Regions from separate parts of the Homo sapiens genome. Here region 1 is linked to region 2. The links come from fine-mapping of genetic effects on gene expression. Tissue or cell type: esophagus muscle. Region 2 holds a variant in brackets; the other region holds the start of a gene. All regions are shown on one strand. Distances are between the middles of the regions.

What was found. PIP is the estimated chance that this variant, and not a neighbour inherited with it, causes the effect.
Region 1: ARFIP1 starts here. The variant in region 2 is fine-mapped to the expression of ARFIP1 in esophagus muscle (GTEx, PIP above 0.99).

What each region holds. Positions count from the first base shown.
Region 1 is chr4:152,776,359-152,784,541 of GRCh38, forward strand. ARFIP1 (ARF interacting protein 1) reads left to right here and starts at 3,596. Exons shown (of 9, transcript NM_001025595.3): 1 at 3,596-3,868. TIGD4 (tigger transposable element derived 4) reads right to left here and starts at 3,372. Exons shown (of 2, transcript NM_145720.4): 1 at 3,124-3,372. RefSeq lists enhancers at 2,814-3,023, 3,474-3,633, 3,824-3,873.
Region 2 is chr4:152,737,950-152,746,132 of GRCh38, forward strand. No RefSeq gene overlaps it. Among named protein-coding and RNA genes, the nearest start is that of TIGD4, 38 kb to the right of the region's middle. RefSeq lists an enhancer at 2,769-3,269. The variant G/A (reference allele first, on the strand shown) is at 5,088.

The DNA of each region.
Region 1 (8,183 bases), 38 kb after region 2:
TTTTACAACTCTAATGTTCTACCTTTTTTTTCTTCCACAACAGTCATCTTAGAATAATGTTCTACTTTTGCACCAAGTTATTAAAAAAAAAATCAGTATCAGAAAACATAAAGCTGGCATTCTTCCCATTCAGAATCTCTAGGAGTAATGAGTCACTCTCCTTTCATCAGTAGTTTATACCCCTCTGCAGAGAATCAACTACTTTCCAAACTTAAGACAGCACTCACTCATTGTCTTCTACAGATAGATAGCAACTATATCCACTTAATCCTACTTGTACCATTACCCTAAGTAGCAGGAGTTGCTGGTATTCTTGAACTTGCCTGGTATGCAGCAGACAACATATTTCCATAACTCAACTAGAATTGGCCAATTTCCTGGTGTTATAAGAGAATCAAGTAAGTCCAAAGTTCAGTTTCCCAAAAACCATCTTATTTATCATGGGAAAACATGCAAGACAGTAGTATAAAGCAGACTGAAATGGGGGCTCAAATCAAAGGCTGTAAGATCCAAAAACAGGGAAAAATGAATTCTCACAGGGAGGATAAATAATGGGTTCATGACAGAAGTAGCATCTGAACTCAACTGTAAAGGATGGATAGGTACATCACAGGTAAGGAAAAATAGGAAAACATTTCTGCTGATAAGAATAGACAATAAAGCATGGAAGAGGGAAATATGCACTTTGAAGCATATTAAACATTTCTTTGCAACTAAAGTTTCATATCTATGTCTATATTGGTATTTATACCTATCTCTATTAGTTGGCTAAATTAGCACTTTTCCTTCAGGTATATAAGAGAGTGCTCATTTGCAAGATTGAGGCCAGATCTTGGTAAGCCTTTAATGCCAGGATAAAGAATTAGACTTCATTGAGTATGCCACAAATGCCATTCAGGGCTACTAGAGTTCCCCACAAGCCCAATGAATAAATAGCACCTGATTTTTCAAAAGCCAAATAAACAGCCAATAGCAGTGCAAAGTTAAATGAGTAGATAATCTCCATGTCATAAGTATATATGGAAGGCAGCTATTCCCTTTTTTCTTACCTCTCTAAAAATAAATGACAATTCAGAGAAAAGTAGTAATCTTCTATTCTAAACAAAATGAGCAGGCAGGGTCCCCCAAGTTTTAGGGCAAAGGAAGAAAGGAAGAAAAGAAGGGAGGGAGGGAGGAAGGAAGGAAGAAAAAAAGGAAGGAAGGAGGGGAGAAAGGAAAAAAGGAAGGAAGGGAGGGAGGGAGGGAAGGAGGAAAGAAAAAGAGGAAGAAGGAAGGAAGGAGAAGGGAGGGAGACAAGAAGGAAAGGAGGAAAGAAAAAGAGGAAGGAGGGAAAAAAGGAAGAGAGGGAGAGAGGGAAGAGAAAACAAGTCTCCTCTAAGCAGGGCCAGGCTTAAAATGATGTTTTTCAGTTAGTACCAAAAATATTCCCCAATCCAAAGAACGCTGGTTTGCTGCTTCCATTGTCTCAAAGGATGTATAGAATTCCACTATTTTCCATCACCAGCTGAAGTAGTTTCTAGTGTTTTCTTGGAGCCAGACTACATTCTAATTTCCTTCAGGGCAGTGGAAATCATGGAAAGATTAATCCTGTGTATATATAGCCTTGCACAGCGTAATACTGTGGATGAGGATTAATCGTACACAGTACCAGAATTCACTGAAGAGTATCTAACTTGGTTAGCATCTTCACCAAGCAGAAGTTAGCATTAGTTCCAAATCCATCTGAATCTCCATCAAAACCATCAGCAGCTGCCAAGGAAACTATGAACAAACTAAAGCAAGTCTTCACCTTTCCAAAATAAGAAACACTTCAGAGTCTGACAGTCTAATAGTTAGACTAACTTTAGTCAAGCTAAGCATCTCCAAACTCAAGAGACAGCTAGCAGGAATCTTTAAGATAACAGCCAGCAAAAACAATTTAGTATTCATTGTCCACATCATTCAAGCACCGCTGAGTCCTACCGTACACTTCCTCCAAGTCACCCTTCTGAAACCCTAGGAACAACACTTGTACTTAGCTGCAAGTTCTGTAGTTGCTCAGTTCCTACACAATTACAGCAGTAATTAATTTAGATTGGGATTATTTTCTTATAATTGAGAAGACTAATGGTCTCCAAACCAACAAGATGGCTTTGTACAGAAAAATCCACAGTAAGCTATAACAATTGAAGTTACAGTTTGAGTGGGTTGGCATATATATTTGCTCCTTTCTTTTGTTTAAGACAGAACCACTTAAGATAAGAGATTTATGTTTTGGAATTTCAGTACTATTTTTTTAAGAGGTGGTATCCTAGAGAGCTCAATCAATATTGTTATACATTGGAAACATTTATGGTGCCATAGGTGTTTACTATTCACAGATCTGGGGAAGATACCTGCCAGGGATATTTCACTACACTGAAACTCCCTGGAAATCTGTAGAGGTAGAGCTCTGCCTTTGGGCATTAGTCATTAAAAATATCTTGTCAGCTACTGTGACAAGTAAAGGCAGCTGAGAAGTACGGTCTAAAGAAGGGTAAATCTCGCCGTGTGCACAGTTACCCTTCGCATTTCTACAAGTGAAATGGGAGTAAAAATGAGCATTCAAAGCTGTCAAAGGAAAAGCAGTCCAGCAGTTCGAAGGGATATTCTGTGATGGACCAACTGTATGGTACAGTGTGTAAATGAACTTCAGGTCTATCTAGCGCCACGGGGGAGCCACGCTTTCGCACCACTGAGCTCTGGGGATGGGGAGAGTAGTGCAGGTTGGGGCCCCGTTTAGGAAACTACGAAGGGCTCTGAGAGAGCGAATTGTTCAGCAGTTTCCGTGACAGAACAATGATCTATTTAAGAAGTAATGGGGCAAGCAAAGAAAGCAGAGCTCGGTCATCCGGAAAAAGAAAGAGGAGCCGGAAAGAAAAGTATCAAGGAATCTACTGTGAGAGAGCGAGCAAAAAGCAAAAAGCGATCACAAATCCAGAGCAAGTAAGAGCTCAGGGATGCCGGGCCCGGGGGTCTAGCCTTTCTGAAGGGAGAGGGCTCCCCAGGCACGGGGGCAGCGCGAGGCAGCGCCCGCATTCCGTCTGCTGCCTTATCTTCGCATTCTCCCTACCACCCCCACCTTCCCCCCGGGACTGGAATAACCTTCTTCGTGCTCTCCGGTGGCTGAGAAAGCAGCTTTCGCTCTTCTGTGGTAGCGTGGAGGTGAGGTACATCTACCTCCACCCTCCCGGCACCAGCTCACGGTCTGTTGGGGGGGTCCTCCTAACGTGTGAGGCTAGGGTGTGTGAATGAAAAAGAGGGAGGCGGAGGCCTCCTGGAGACCTTCGACCTCTCAAGACCAGGCAGGGGCGCCCTTCCGCAAGCTCCCAGCTCTAGCCGGTGCCTCTGGCCCCGCGCGCATTAGGTCGCTGCCAGAAAATTACCCGGGCAACGACACCGCCGGAGTCCCGGATGTGGTTGCTAGGGCAGCAGAGGGAGGGGCGTAGCCCGCCTCCCGGAGAAGGGCGGAGGGATCCTCGTGGGAGGTGCGCTGACACCACCGAGACGTGGCCGGGCAAGGCCGGATTGAGGGAGAGAGAGGCCGTCCAGGGCCAGGGACAACGCTACTTCCGGTCTCCTCACTTCCGGCTTCGCTGCTCTTGGTTCTGGTTCTGGAGGCTGGGTTGAGAGGTCGCCGGTCCGACTGTCCTCGGCGGTTGGTCAGTGTGAATTTGTGACAGCTGCAGTTGCTCCCCGCCCCCGAGCAGCCGAGGTGCGTGGGGGAAGGGGAAGAAGGAAAAGGTCCGGGTCGCGTTTCCGCTCAGTTTTTGCCAGGGTTGAGGCGATTCCAGAGAGCGGCGGAAAGGATAAGCCTCGACTTAGAAGCTACCGAGTTACCCTAAGAAAGGTGAGGGCGGAGCTGGCTCGCCTGGGAAAAGGCGGGGGAAAGATGGTTTGAGGTGGCTGGTGGGGCGGGCACGTTGCCTACGGGTTCACCGTTCCGAACTTTCACAGGGCACGCCTCTCCTTAGTCTGTGCCGTATCTGCCCAAGTGTTATGCCTTTGGTTTCTTCTGTCCTTCATTCCTTCTGTCCCTCTGAGTGTGCCCCCGAAACAGTCGAGTGAAGGTGTAGGACCGGCCCTTGCAGGGAGGCACTCTCTTGGCTTTGCATACATTGGGTGGGAAAAGGAGTTGCAGGATCCAGAATCCGGACCTTTCTTGACAAAGTGTCGGAGTGGGCCACCTTCAGGCTTGCTGTCCAACCCTCATTTCTCCCCTCTTCTCCCTGCATCCCCAGCTTCCTCTCTCCCGCAGTGGGAGGAAGGGAGATAGTGACAGTCCCTCTGAGAGATTCATCTGGCAGTGGTGCAGAGAGGAGTCTTGCCTGTGAAATGTCCCAAGCCTGACTAAGGAATGCTGGAGTTTTGGAAAGGGAGTTGTTCGATTGTCTTCTGCTCCGTTCCTGTTTGCCAAGTTACTACTGTTTACGTGTCTAGGAAAAGGAAATAATTTTTTAAAAACAGTTTTTAGATGCTAGACGTTTTTCCCTTTTACTTTATTTTGTTATTACTTCCTTTGTTTTGTTCTTACCTTCCTCTTGAGCCCTTTGATTTCAAAAAGTTTACACTTTATACTTCCTGCAGATCCTTTGGCCACTCTTAGGATTTCTGTCCCCCGCCCCTACCCTGTTTTCTCCTAAAGTATAAAATTCATCTAACTACATTATTATTTGATAAGGAAAAGCCGGAAGAGATCCAGAACTTCGCATAAACTTTTGCTTTCATACTTTCACCTGTAAGGGTGTGTTCATGTTTGCCATTTAATTAACTTAATTGGCATAGAAATGTGCACCAGAAATGGTTACCTTAAGTCAGCCGTCTGTTAAGGCTTCAGGAATTGGCCTTTTCTTTTTTCTTTTTTTTTTTTTTTTTTTGAGACAGAGTCTCACTCTGTCGCCCAGGCTGGAGTGCATTGGCACGATCTCGGCTCACCGCAACGTCCACCTCCCAGGCTCAAGCTTTTCTCCTGTCTCAGCCTTCTGAGTAGCTGGGTTTACAGGTAGGCGCCACTACCGCCTAGCTAATTTTTGTATTTTTAGTAGAGACGGGGTTTCACCGTGTTGGCCAGGCTGGTCTCAAACTCCTGACCTCAAATGATCCTCCCTCCTCGGCCTCCCAAAGTGTTGGGATTACAGGCGTGAGCCACCGCGCCCGGCCGAATTGGCCATTTCATTGCTGTTCTCTCAGAGCGGCTACAGATTACTATATTTTACTGCTGCCTTAATTCTGCTTTTCTTTCGTTTGTCCTGTGGTGTTTTTTGTTTTGTTTTCCTTGCTTAGCATGACCCACGTCTTCTCCCAACTACCAAGTCTAACACACTTTTATCTGAGAAAAGAGAAAAGATTTCTAATGTATTTTGTGGATTAAATCCCTGCCTCAGTTACTTTAGTTTCTTTCCAAATTGATAAACTGGTTTTCCTTGGATTATGATTTGCCTTAATCCTGGATGATGACTTGGGGTTCATGGCCTAAGGGTCAACAACTTTCAGGGGTCTTCCTCATTCCCACCCCTGAAATTATATGCAGTTTTGTTTGAGTGAATTTTTTTCCCCCCTGGGGAAAGTGTCCATTGTTTTTATCAAATTCTCAAAGGAGATATACAGCCTCTTGATAGATTAAAACCACCACTTAGGCAGTGTCTTGTTGAAGTTAGTGAAAACAGGTTTTGTGTGTGTATGTGTGTGTGTGTTTTCCACTTAGGCAGTATCTTGTTGAAGTTAGTGAAAACAGGTGTGTATGTGTGTGTGCTTTCCCAAACTGTGCAAAGGAGATATATAGCTTCTTGATAGATTAAAACCACCACTTAGGCAGTGTCTTGTTGAAGTTAGTGAAAACAGGTAGGGGTGTGTGTGTGTGTGTGTGTGTGTGTGTGTGTGTGTTTTCCCAAACTGTAAATTGTTTGCTTTGGGACCAAGGAAAGGAGAATGCAGGGATTCTTCTAGTTTGATATTGAAATCTCTCCTTTAAAACATTAGTGTTTCTAAATTCCTTCCTAGACTTACAGAAGGAAATGAGGCTGCCCACTTTATTTCCTGATTTGTGGTTTTGAGGTTTCTTCTTAGGGATAGCTGTTTGTGGTCCATGCTCTGGAGATCCAGTGGATTTACAAACTGATGTGCCTATCTTTAATATGTATTAAATATCACCAACCAACTAGGCACAGTTCAGAGTAAAAAATTTAAATTCTAGTTGTATTTTGCTTTCATTTTCTTAATTTTTTTTGCTTGAGGCATGTACCTTAGGATTTGATTTGGCTTTGCTATGAAAAACAAACAAGATGTTTCAGTGGTGTGGTCCTTTGGAATGTTGTTGCTTATCTTGACATCCCCTTTCCCTCCATTCTGTATGAGATATTTTAATGATTGTTTCTCTCTTGTGAATACGTTAGTATCCTTCCAAGCTTAATGTAAGTTTTAGAGTACATATTTGAACTTACTGATTTGGTTGTGAATTATTTGTTGATTGAGGGTTGCAGTTCTAAAGGTCTGATACTTTTTTTTTTAGAATGTTAACTTGAAGAGACCTATACAGCTCATCATAGTCTATCATGAGTATCCAGTTTCTTCTGCTCACAGAATAAGTTTTCCTCTGTCTAGCAACCTCACTTGGGGGAGCAGTCAACATAAGTTTATAGAGAATAGCGTATGCTAGGCTGGGCACGGTGCCTCACACCTGTAATCCCAACACTTTGGGAGGCTGTGGCGGGTGGATCACTTGATGTCAGGAGTTCAAAACCTGGCCAACATGGTGAAACCCCATCTCTCCTAAAAATAAAAAAATTAGCCGGGTGTGTGTTGCATGCCTGTAGTCCCAGCTACTTGGGAGGGGCTGAGGCAGGAGAATCGCTTGAACCCAGGAGGCGGAGGCTGCAGTAAGCCAAGATCCCACCACTTCACTCCAGCCTGGCCAACAGAGTGAGACTCCATCTCAAAAACAACATCAACAACAGACTAGCTTATGCTAAATTAGTTTCCTTTTAAGGTAATGACAAATTCGGAAGATATTTTATATCTAACACTGTAACAGTTACATTTATTTGCTTACCATGTGCATTAAGCTAAGTGCTTTACATTATTATCTCAAATGATAACCTTATAAAGTGGCTAAAGTCCTCATTTCTGTAGGTGAAGAAAATAAAGCTGAATGATTAACTGAAGCTAAAGTAGTCTGCTCAGAATTGCGCTGGTGGAGCCAGTGCATGGCTCCACCTACGTTGTCTGACTCTAGACTACTACTGTAGACAACTTCTACCATGCGTCCATTATGTCCTTTTTGAAATGAGTTGGAGATATATCACCTGACTTTCTATCAGGTGTTGAGAAAAGGTTGTTTCCTTTCTTAATCTTCAGTGGATGAACATCTGGTTGAATATCATACTGAGAAGTTTGACAAAAAAGTGAATTTGGTGGAGGCAGTTGGTAGGGGTTTCCTATGGGGATGGATATAAGTCTCTGGTGTGTGTGTGTGTGTGTGTTAGAACACACACACCTACTTGAAATAAAGAATTGTAAGTATTATAAATTCTTGAAATGAAGATTCAAATAATAAGCAGATGGTGTGTGTGTATATGAGGAGGGGAAAATGTGAAAATGAAGATTATAAGTAATAAACTGGGCATTGTAAGAGTCTGGAAGTATAAATAAATTTTAGAATAATACATTTGGGATGGAAAGAATAAATTCAGAATGGAAGAAGGAGTAAATTAAACAGGAAACTTTAATATGGTTATGGATGAAAAACTAAAATATTTGTACAGAATGGAAAGTGAGTTGTTCCACTTAATATGGAAGTTGATGACTTAGGATCATGACAATCTAAAAGTCAGATATGTAGCACTACTTCTGGATGTATGAAAAAGACTATTGGCCTGAAAATAATTTTGTTTTCCTTGATCTTTAGTAGCTTTTGGCAGTCATGGAAGCTGCCGAATGGCTCTTGCAGATTAACAGATATTCTTTATGAGACAAAAGTATTTATTTTCTTTTTCTTTTTCCTTTATTCCTATTCTCCTCTTTCTCCCATCTCTCATTCCATTCTCCTCCATTCCTTCTAAGCCTTTGTCTTAGGATGGGCATAGGCAGGTGTTGCTCAAACCTTTAGTTGTTCCTGAAAAAGGAATATAAAGTCTCTTTATGAAATACACTTTTTTCCCTTAATGAAC
Region 2 (8,183 bases):
CCTTCAGATCTCCCCATAGTCCAGCAACTTGTGGGGTCCCTGCTCGGTGATGATTGCACTCAGCCCTTTGGCAGGCTCCCTTTGGAAATTGGCATGGGGGACAGAGAGGAGGAGATGCTCTGCAGTAGGTCAGGTGCTTGGGAACAGAGGGTAGCCCAGGACAGGAGCCTTTAAGAGGTATCTGCTGCACAGTCGGTTTTACCCTTCCCCTCTGCATTATTACCCAAAAGGCAAAAATAGGGTTCAGGAACAGCAGAGAAAGTATCTTTCCCTTCATTCACACATTAGCAGGAGAAACTCTAGGTGTTAGAGCAAAGTAACAACCCTGCCTATGGTGCAGTGGTACCCTGGGGGGACTTAGGAGAAAGAAGACCAGTATTTGGGGAGAGCCAGAGGGCTGGAAATGAAGACTAAGGAGTTTCTCTCTTTCCTGTTTGGTGTATACATGATGATACACATACAAGAACCCCTGATACAGTGTCAGGCCCTTACCTGGTGCACAATAAATGTTTCTGAACTTTCTGGACTGATTAGATTATGATGTGAGCTGTTTAGAAAAAGGCCGTGGGAGTCTGCTTTCAGCCTTGAATTTAGTAGAGGATTATTACTAAGGCACCAGAGCAGATATGCAGGGGCCAGGGAGGAGCTGCCAAATAAGAGGACATTGTCTTGGTAAAAAAGAGAGTCTCTGAAATGGGCCAGCAGTTATAAATATCAATGGCAAATGCCTGAGCACTGATGTAAGAAGATGAATGCAAGAAACCTGACCGTCTTGGAAAAGACCTGAGCATGATGGATTCTTCCAAATCTAAATCCACTAAATTAGTTCTGAGACTACTCAGTGTTACATGGAAAGACGACAGCAGACAAGGCACCCCTCCATCTGCAAAACACTCCTGCTAGTGCTTCTAGGGGCACAGGAAGGGGACAAACAGAAACAAAAACAGTTGAGAGTCAAGATCATGAAATACGACCAACACAAAGGAGTTTGTGAAGTGAGAAGTGTTACTTATTCAACAGAGAGATTCCACAAAGAATCTCTTGTATAGTTTTATGACCTCATTCTTGCAAAGGATATAGCAGAAAAAAGAATTGAGTCATAAAAAGCGAAAGATATTTCTCAATTTCCTAATCATAACTTCGTGACTTAAAACAACAAAAGCTTATTCTCATAGAGTTCTGGAGGCCAAAGTCCAAAATCAAGGTGTTGGCAAGGCCATGCTCCCCAAGAAGGTTCTGGGGCAGAACCCTTTCTTGTCTCTTCCAGCTTCTGGTGGCTCCTGGCATTCCTTGGTTTGGGGCAGCCTAACTCCAGTATCTGCCTTGGCCCTCACATGGTCTTCTCTGTGTGATTTTGTGCCCTCTATATTGTAAGGACACTAGTCATTAGATTTAGGGCCCACTCTTAATCTATGATGATTTCATCTGAGCTCCTCAACCAATTACAATTAATTACATATGCTAAGAAAATTACATCCCTATTTCCACATAAGGTCACATTCTGAGCTTTTGGGTGGCCATAAATTTGGGTGGGGGACATTATTCAACCCACTATAATGTGTGACACATGCAGAAAATAGACAAAAAAGAGAGATTATGCATTTATAACATAGGAAATAGATTTACTCTTTGTGATTACCTTGTTATTCTTTACTACAGCCAACTATCTAATGATTGGTGACAATCAGAAGCAAACTTGACCTTTATCTACATGCTGTAGGAAAATGGTTCCCAAATGCTAAACAATGAAACAGCACTGGTCCGAGGGAAAGCTTTCATAGGCCAAGGCATCTTTTCCACAATCCCTGTGGGCTCTCGATTGAAGTCCCAGGGCCTCAGTTGCTCAGCCTTAGCTAAGAGGAGCTACTGAGTAAGAGCTTGCTCTAGGCACCTGGGCTCTACCATCTGCCCCCGCCAAGTTCTTCATGGCCCGGTAAGGAATAAGGACAGCATCAGAGCGATCAGGAAACTTGCTTTCATTTACATAGAATATTCCAAATGAAGGGAAATGCCATTAAGAGTGTTACTTCCATCTTTGCTAACAAACCTTTGAGAAACTGAGTTTCATAATGAATGATAAAGATATGAGAACAAATTGAACATTGATGCTCTACTTTGTGGTGTCCTATTGAATATATAACCACAAGCTGATAAATGTGTATCAAACTAACAATTATGTACAATGCAATAGGATTTCATATAGTAACTCTTCTAAACTCAAAAATTATGTATATATTTATAAAAATATATTTCATCTGTGTCTCTCTGTTGTCAGATTACCAACTATCCTTTATGCTATGTCCTTTTTACTTTTTACATGTAAAGTATGATTTCTTTTATGAAATAGTAAATATAGATTCTTACCTTACAAAATACAAAGGGCAACTTTTGTTGGTTCCATGCTTTTTAAACATTTTCACTGAATATATTTTATATTTCAGTGATTTCTTTTTTATTGCTTTGGAGTACAGAATTATTACAGAAATAAATTTCAGAGTATAAAGGTATTTCTCCATAAGAAAACCTGCCATTTAAAAGTCAAGCTTATAGGACATATTGGTTAAAATATAATTGTATTGTTTTGATTTAAAGTAACAGGATTTGCACTTAAGAGAAGGTATACCCTAGATTTCCTTTGCACAATAAATTCCTAAAGTGCATGTATAATATGATTCCATTTTATATTTAAATCCAAAATTTCAAGAGCACAGTCTTTTCAAATTAAGTTACACCTCCTTCTATTTTTCCTGCAGACAGCTGTCAATAGGCAAGATATTCCCACTGTAGCACTCACCTCTCCTATCCATCTGTCTTTCCACCAGGCATTTAGAGATCAGGCAAATAGAAAGACTGTGTCTGGGGTAAAAAAATGACTGCAGAGGGAAAGCTGAACCTGGCTGGACATAGTTGCTCTGCCCAGAACATTGTTTTTTCTCTTTTATGGGCCTTTACTCTGATTGACTACCATTTAACAAAAATGGTAGTGAGAGCAGCGTCACCGGATAATTACAATCTCCTTAAGTGTCAAAAGACCTTGGTCTTCCTTCATATGGAAACTCTCTACCCTCTCATTTAAAGCAATCGAGGCTGGGTGCAGTGGCTAACGCCTGTAATCCCGGCACTTTGGAAGGCTGAGGTGGGCCGATCACTTGAGTCCACAGTTTGAGACCAGCTTGGGCAACATGGCAAAATCCTGTCTCTACACAAAATACAAAAATTAGCCTGGCTTGGTGGCACGCATCTGTGGTCCCAGGCACTTGGGAGGCTGAGGCAGGGGGATGGCTTGAGCCTGGGAGGTCGAGGCCTCAGTGAGCCGTGATTGTGTCACCGCACTCTAGCCTGAGTCAAACAGTGAGACCCTGTCTAAAAAAAAAAAAAAAAAAAAAAAAAAAGCAATTGAATAACTTTCATGCGCGTCCGTGTGAAGAGACCACCAAACAGGCTTTGTGTGAGCAACATGGCTGTTTATTTCACCTGGGTGCAGGTGGGCTGAGTCCGAAAAGAGAGTCAGCGAAGGGAGATAGGGGTGGGGCCATTTTATAGGATTTGGGAAGGTAATGGAAAATTACAGTCAAAGGGGGTTGTTCTCTGGTGGGCAGGGGTGGATCTCACAAAGTACATTCTCAAGAGTGGGGAGAATTACAAAGAACCTTCTTAAGGGTGGGGGAGATTACAAAGTACATTGATCAGTTAGGGTGGGGCAGGAACAAATCACAATGGTGGAATGTCATCAGTTAAGGCTGTTTTTACTTCTTTTGTGGATCTTCAGTTACTTCAGGCCATCTGGATGTATACGTGCAAGTCACAGGGGATGCGATGGCCTGGCCTGGGCTCAGAGGCCTGACATTCCTGCCTTCTTATATTAATAAGACAAATAAAACAAAATAGTGTTGAAGTGTTGGAGTGGCAAAAATTTTGGGGGGGTGGTATGGAGAGAGAATGGGCGATGTTTCTCAGGGCTGCTTCAAGCGGGATTAGAGGCGGCGTGGGAACCTAGAGTGGGAGAGATTAAGCTGAAGGGAGGTCTTGTGGTGAGGGGTGATATTGTGGGGATGTTAGAAGAAACATTTGTCATATAGAATGATTGGTGATGGCCTGGATACGGTTTTGGATGAATTGAGGAACTAAATGGAATAAGAGAAGGAGAAAAACAGGTATAAAAGGTCTAAGAATTGGGAGGACCTAGGACATCTGATTAGAGAGTGCCTAAGGAGATTCAGCATAGTCCTGCCAGCAAAGATTATTTATTTACTTCAAGAGTTTAGAGTGGCAGTTTGGGGATAGCACCAGGAGATATCAGCTGTGATGGCTTGGAGAAACAGCGTAAACCGGCAGTGTAAACAAGAGCAGGGCGTATATGAGTAGTTGAGAACGGTGAATAGGAGTATGACTAGATAAAAGATAGTAGGGATGACAAGTTTTTTGGGGGCACAGTCTAAGTTGGTCTGGTGTCAAATGAGACTGGGGCCTAATAAAAAGGAGCATGTATACAGGAGCTTAAATGGGCTGTACCTTGTAGAAGCGAAAGTGGTAAAAGTATTGTCCAGTCCTTTTTAAGTTGGTGGCTGAGCTTGGTGAGCTGTGTTTTTAAAAGACCTTTAGTCCGTTCTATTTTTCTTGAAGATGGAGGACCGTAAAGGATATAAAGGTTTCGCTGAAACCTACTAAGAGCCTGAAAAACTGCTTGGCTGATTTGACTAATAAAGGCTGGTCTGTTATCAGACTGTATAGAGGTGGGAAGGCTAAACTGAGGAATTATGTCTGACAGAAGGAAAGAAATGACTGCGGTGGCCTTCTCAGACCCTGTAGGAAAGGCCTTTACTTATTCAGTGAAAGTGTCTATTTGGACTAAGAGGTATTTTAGTTTCCTGACTCGGGCATGTTGAGTAAAGCTAATTTGCCAGTCCTGGGTGGGGGCAAATCCTCAAGCTTGATGTGTAGGGAAGGGAGGGGGCCTGAATAATCCCTGAGGAGTAGTAGAATAGCAGATGGAACACTGAGAAGTTATTTCCTTGAGGATAGATTTCCACGATGGAAAGGAAATGAGAGGTTCTGAGAGGCAGGCTAGTGGCTTGTACTATAGCATA[G/A]CCTGCCTTTGCTGGTGTGTGGCGATTAGGCCTGGTGGAACTGCCATCAATAAATCAAGCGTGATCAGGGTGAGGAACAGGAAAGAAGGAAATTTGGGGAAATGGGGTGAATGTCAGGTGGATCAGAGAGATACAGTCATGGGGGTCAGGTGTGGTATGAGGAATAATGTGGGAGGCCAGATTGAAGTCCGGGCCAGGAACAATGGTAATTGTGGGACTGAAAGAGTGAGTACAGCTGAAGGAGCCGGGGAGCAGAAAGTATATGCGTCAGGTATGAGGAAGAAAATAGATTTTGGAAGTTACGAGAAATGTAGAGAGTGAGTTGAGCATAGTTTGTGATTTTTAGGGCCTCTAAAAGTATTAAGGCAGTGGCAGCCGCTGCACGCAGACATGAGGGCTAGGCTAAAACAGTAAGGTCAAGTTGTTTGGACAGAAAGGCTACAGGGTGTGGTCCTGGCTCTCGTGTAAGAATTCTGACCACGCTAACCATGCCTAGGAAGGAAAGGAGTTGTTGTTTTGTAGAAGGTGCTGGGGTTTGAGAGATCAGTTGGACACGATTGGCAGGGAGAGCACGTGTGTTTTTATGAGATTATGCCGAGATAGGTAACAGATGAGGAAGAAATTTGGGCTTGATTGAAGTAATGGGGGCTGTCTGTGAAGCTTTGTGGCAGTACAGCCTAGGTAATTTGCTGAGCTTGATGGGTGTCAGGGTCAGTCCAAGTGAAGGTGAAGAGAGGCTGGGATTAAGGGTGCAAAGGAATAGTAAAGAAAGCATGTTTGAGATCTAGAACAGAATAATGGGTTATAGAGGCAGGTATTGAGGATAGGAGAGTATATGGGTTTGGCACCACGGGGTGGATAGGCAAAACAATTTGGTTGATAAGGTGCAGATCCTGAACTAACTTGTAAGGCTTGTCTGGTTTTAGGACAGGTGAAATGGGGGAATTGTAAGGAGAGTTTATAGGCTTTAAAAGGCCATGCTGTAGCAGGCAAGTGATAACAGACTTTAATCTTTTTAAAGCGTACTGCGGGATGGGATATTGGCATTGAGTGGGGTAAGGGTGATTAGGTTTTAATGAGATGGTAAGGGATGCATGATCGGTCGCCAAGGAGGGAGTAGAGGTATCTTATACTTGTGGGTTAAGGTGGGGGGATACAAGAGGAGGACGCAAAGGAGGCTTTGGATTGGGAAGAAGGGCAGCAATGAAATATAGCTGTAGTCCGGGATAGTCAGGGAAGCAGATAATTTAGTTAAAGTGTCTCAGCCTAATAAGGGAACTGGGCAGGTGGGGATAACTAAAAAGGAGTGCTTAAAAGAGTATTGTCTAAGTTGGCACCAGAGTTGAGGAGTTTTCAGGGGTTTTGAAGCTTGGCCATCAATACCCACAAAAGTTATGGGGGCAAGGGAAACAGGCCCTTGAAAAGAAGGCAATGTGGAGTGGGTAGCCCTCGTATCGATCAAACAGGGGATGGACTTACCCTCCACTGTGAGAGTTACCTGAAGCTCGGTGTCCGTGATGGTCCAGGGGGCTTCCGAGGCGATCGGGCAGCGTCAATCTTCAGTCGCTAAGCCAAGCAGATCTGGGAAGGAGTCAGTCAGAGAGCCTTGGGCTAGAGCTTTAGGGGCTCTAGGAGTGGCTGCTGGGCAAGCTGGGCAGTCTGATTTCCAGTGGGTCCCTGCACAGATGGGACATGGCTTGGGAGGGATCCTGGGCTGCAGGCATTCCTTGGCCCAGTGGCCAGATTTCTGGCACTTGAAGCAGGATCCTGATGGAGGAAGTCTTGTAGGAATGCTTGACTGCTGCAGCTTAGGCATTTTGAAGTTCTTGTATGCAGGAGGTGTGGCTGGGTTTTGTCTCACAGCAGAGGCAAGTAATTGTAACTCAGAAATGCGTTGCCGTCTGGCTGCTTTCTATTATTGTACACCTTGAAGGCGAGGTTGATTAATTCCTGTTGTGGGGTTTGAGGGCCAGAATTTAATTTTTGGAGTTTTAATGTCGGGAGCAGATTGGGTAATAAAATGTATTTTGAGAATAAGACGGCCTTTTGACCTTTTAGGGTCTAGGGCTGTAAAGTGTCTCAGGGTTGCTGCCAAACGAGCCATGAACTGGGCTGGGTTTTTATATTTGATGAAAAAGAGCCTAAACGCTATCTGATTTGGGATAAAGAAAAAGGAGCATTAACCTTGACTATGCCTTTAGCTCCAGCCACCTTTTTAAGAATAAATTGCTGGGCAGGTGGGGGAGGGCTAAGTCACGGAAGGAAACTGTAAGCCGGAGCAGGTGTGAGGAGGGGAGGCGATAAAAAGATTATAGGGTGGAGGAGTGGAGGCTGAGGAAGAATTGGGACCTAGCTCGGCCTGGCGAGGAGGGGAGAGGTCAGATGGGTCTGTAGAAAAGGAAGATTAGAAAGACTCAGCGACGCTTGGGGTTGGTACTGAGGGGACAGGCGGGAGGGAAAGAAGGAAGATTTGGGATGAGTTGCACTGGGCACAGAGACTAGGAAGGGACTGATGTGTAAAAGAATGCCTGGACGTCAGGCACCTCAGACCATCTGCCCATTTTACGACAAGAATTATTTAGATCTTGTAGGATGGAAAAATTGAAAGTGCCGTTTTCTGGCTATTTGGAACTACTGTTGAGTTTGTATTGGGGTCAAGCGGCATTGCAGAAGAAAAACGCTTAGATTTTAGGTCAGGTGAGAATTGAAGAGGTTTTAAGTTCTTAAGAATACAGGCTAAGGGAGAAGAAAGAGGAATGGAAGGTGGAAGCTTGCCCATAGTGAAGGAGGCAAGCCCAGAGAAAAGAGTAGAGACACGGAGAAGGGGTGGGGGTTTCTTCCCCTCCAGAAAAGCAGAGAAAGGGTTGGGGCACGGAAATAAGGGATTGGGGCACAGAGATAAGAGATTGGGGCGTGGAAATAAGCGATTGGGGGGTTCTTGCCCCCTAGGAAAAGCGGGACTTGCTGCTAAGGGTGAAGGAGAAGGGGTTGAGGGGTACTTGCCCCTGCCCCAGGAAAGCGGGACTTGCCACTGAGGGTGAAGGAGAAGGGGTTGAGGGGTACTTGCTCCTGCCCCAGGAAAGCGGGACTTGCCAC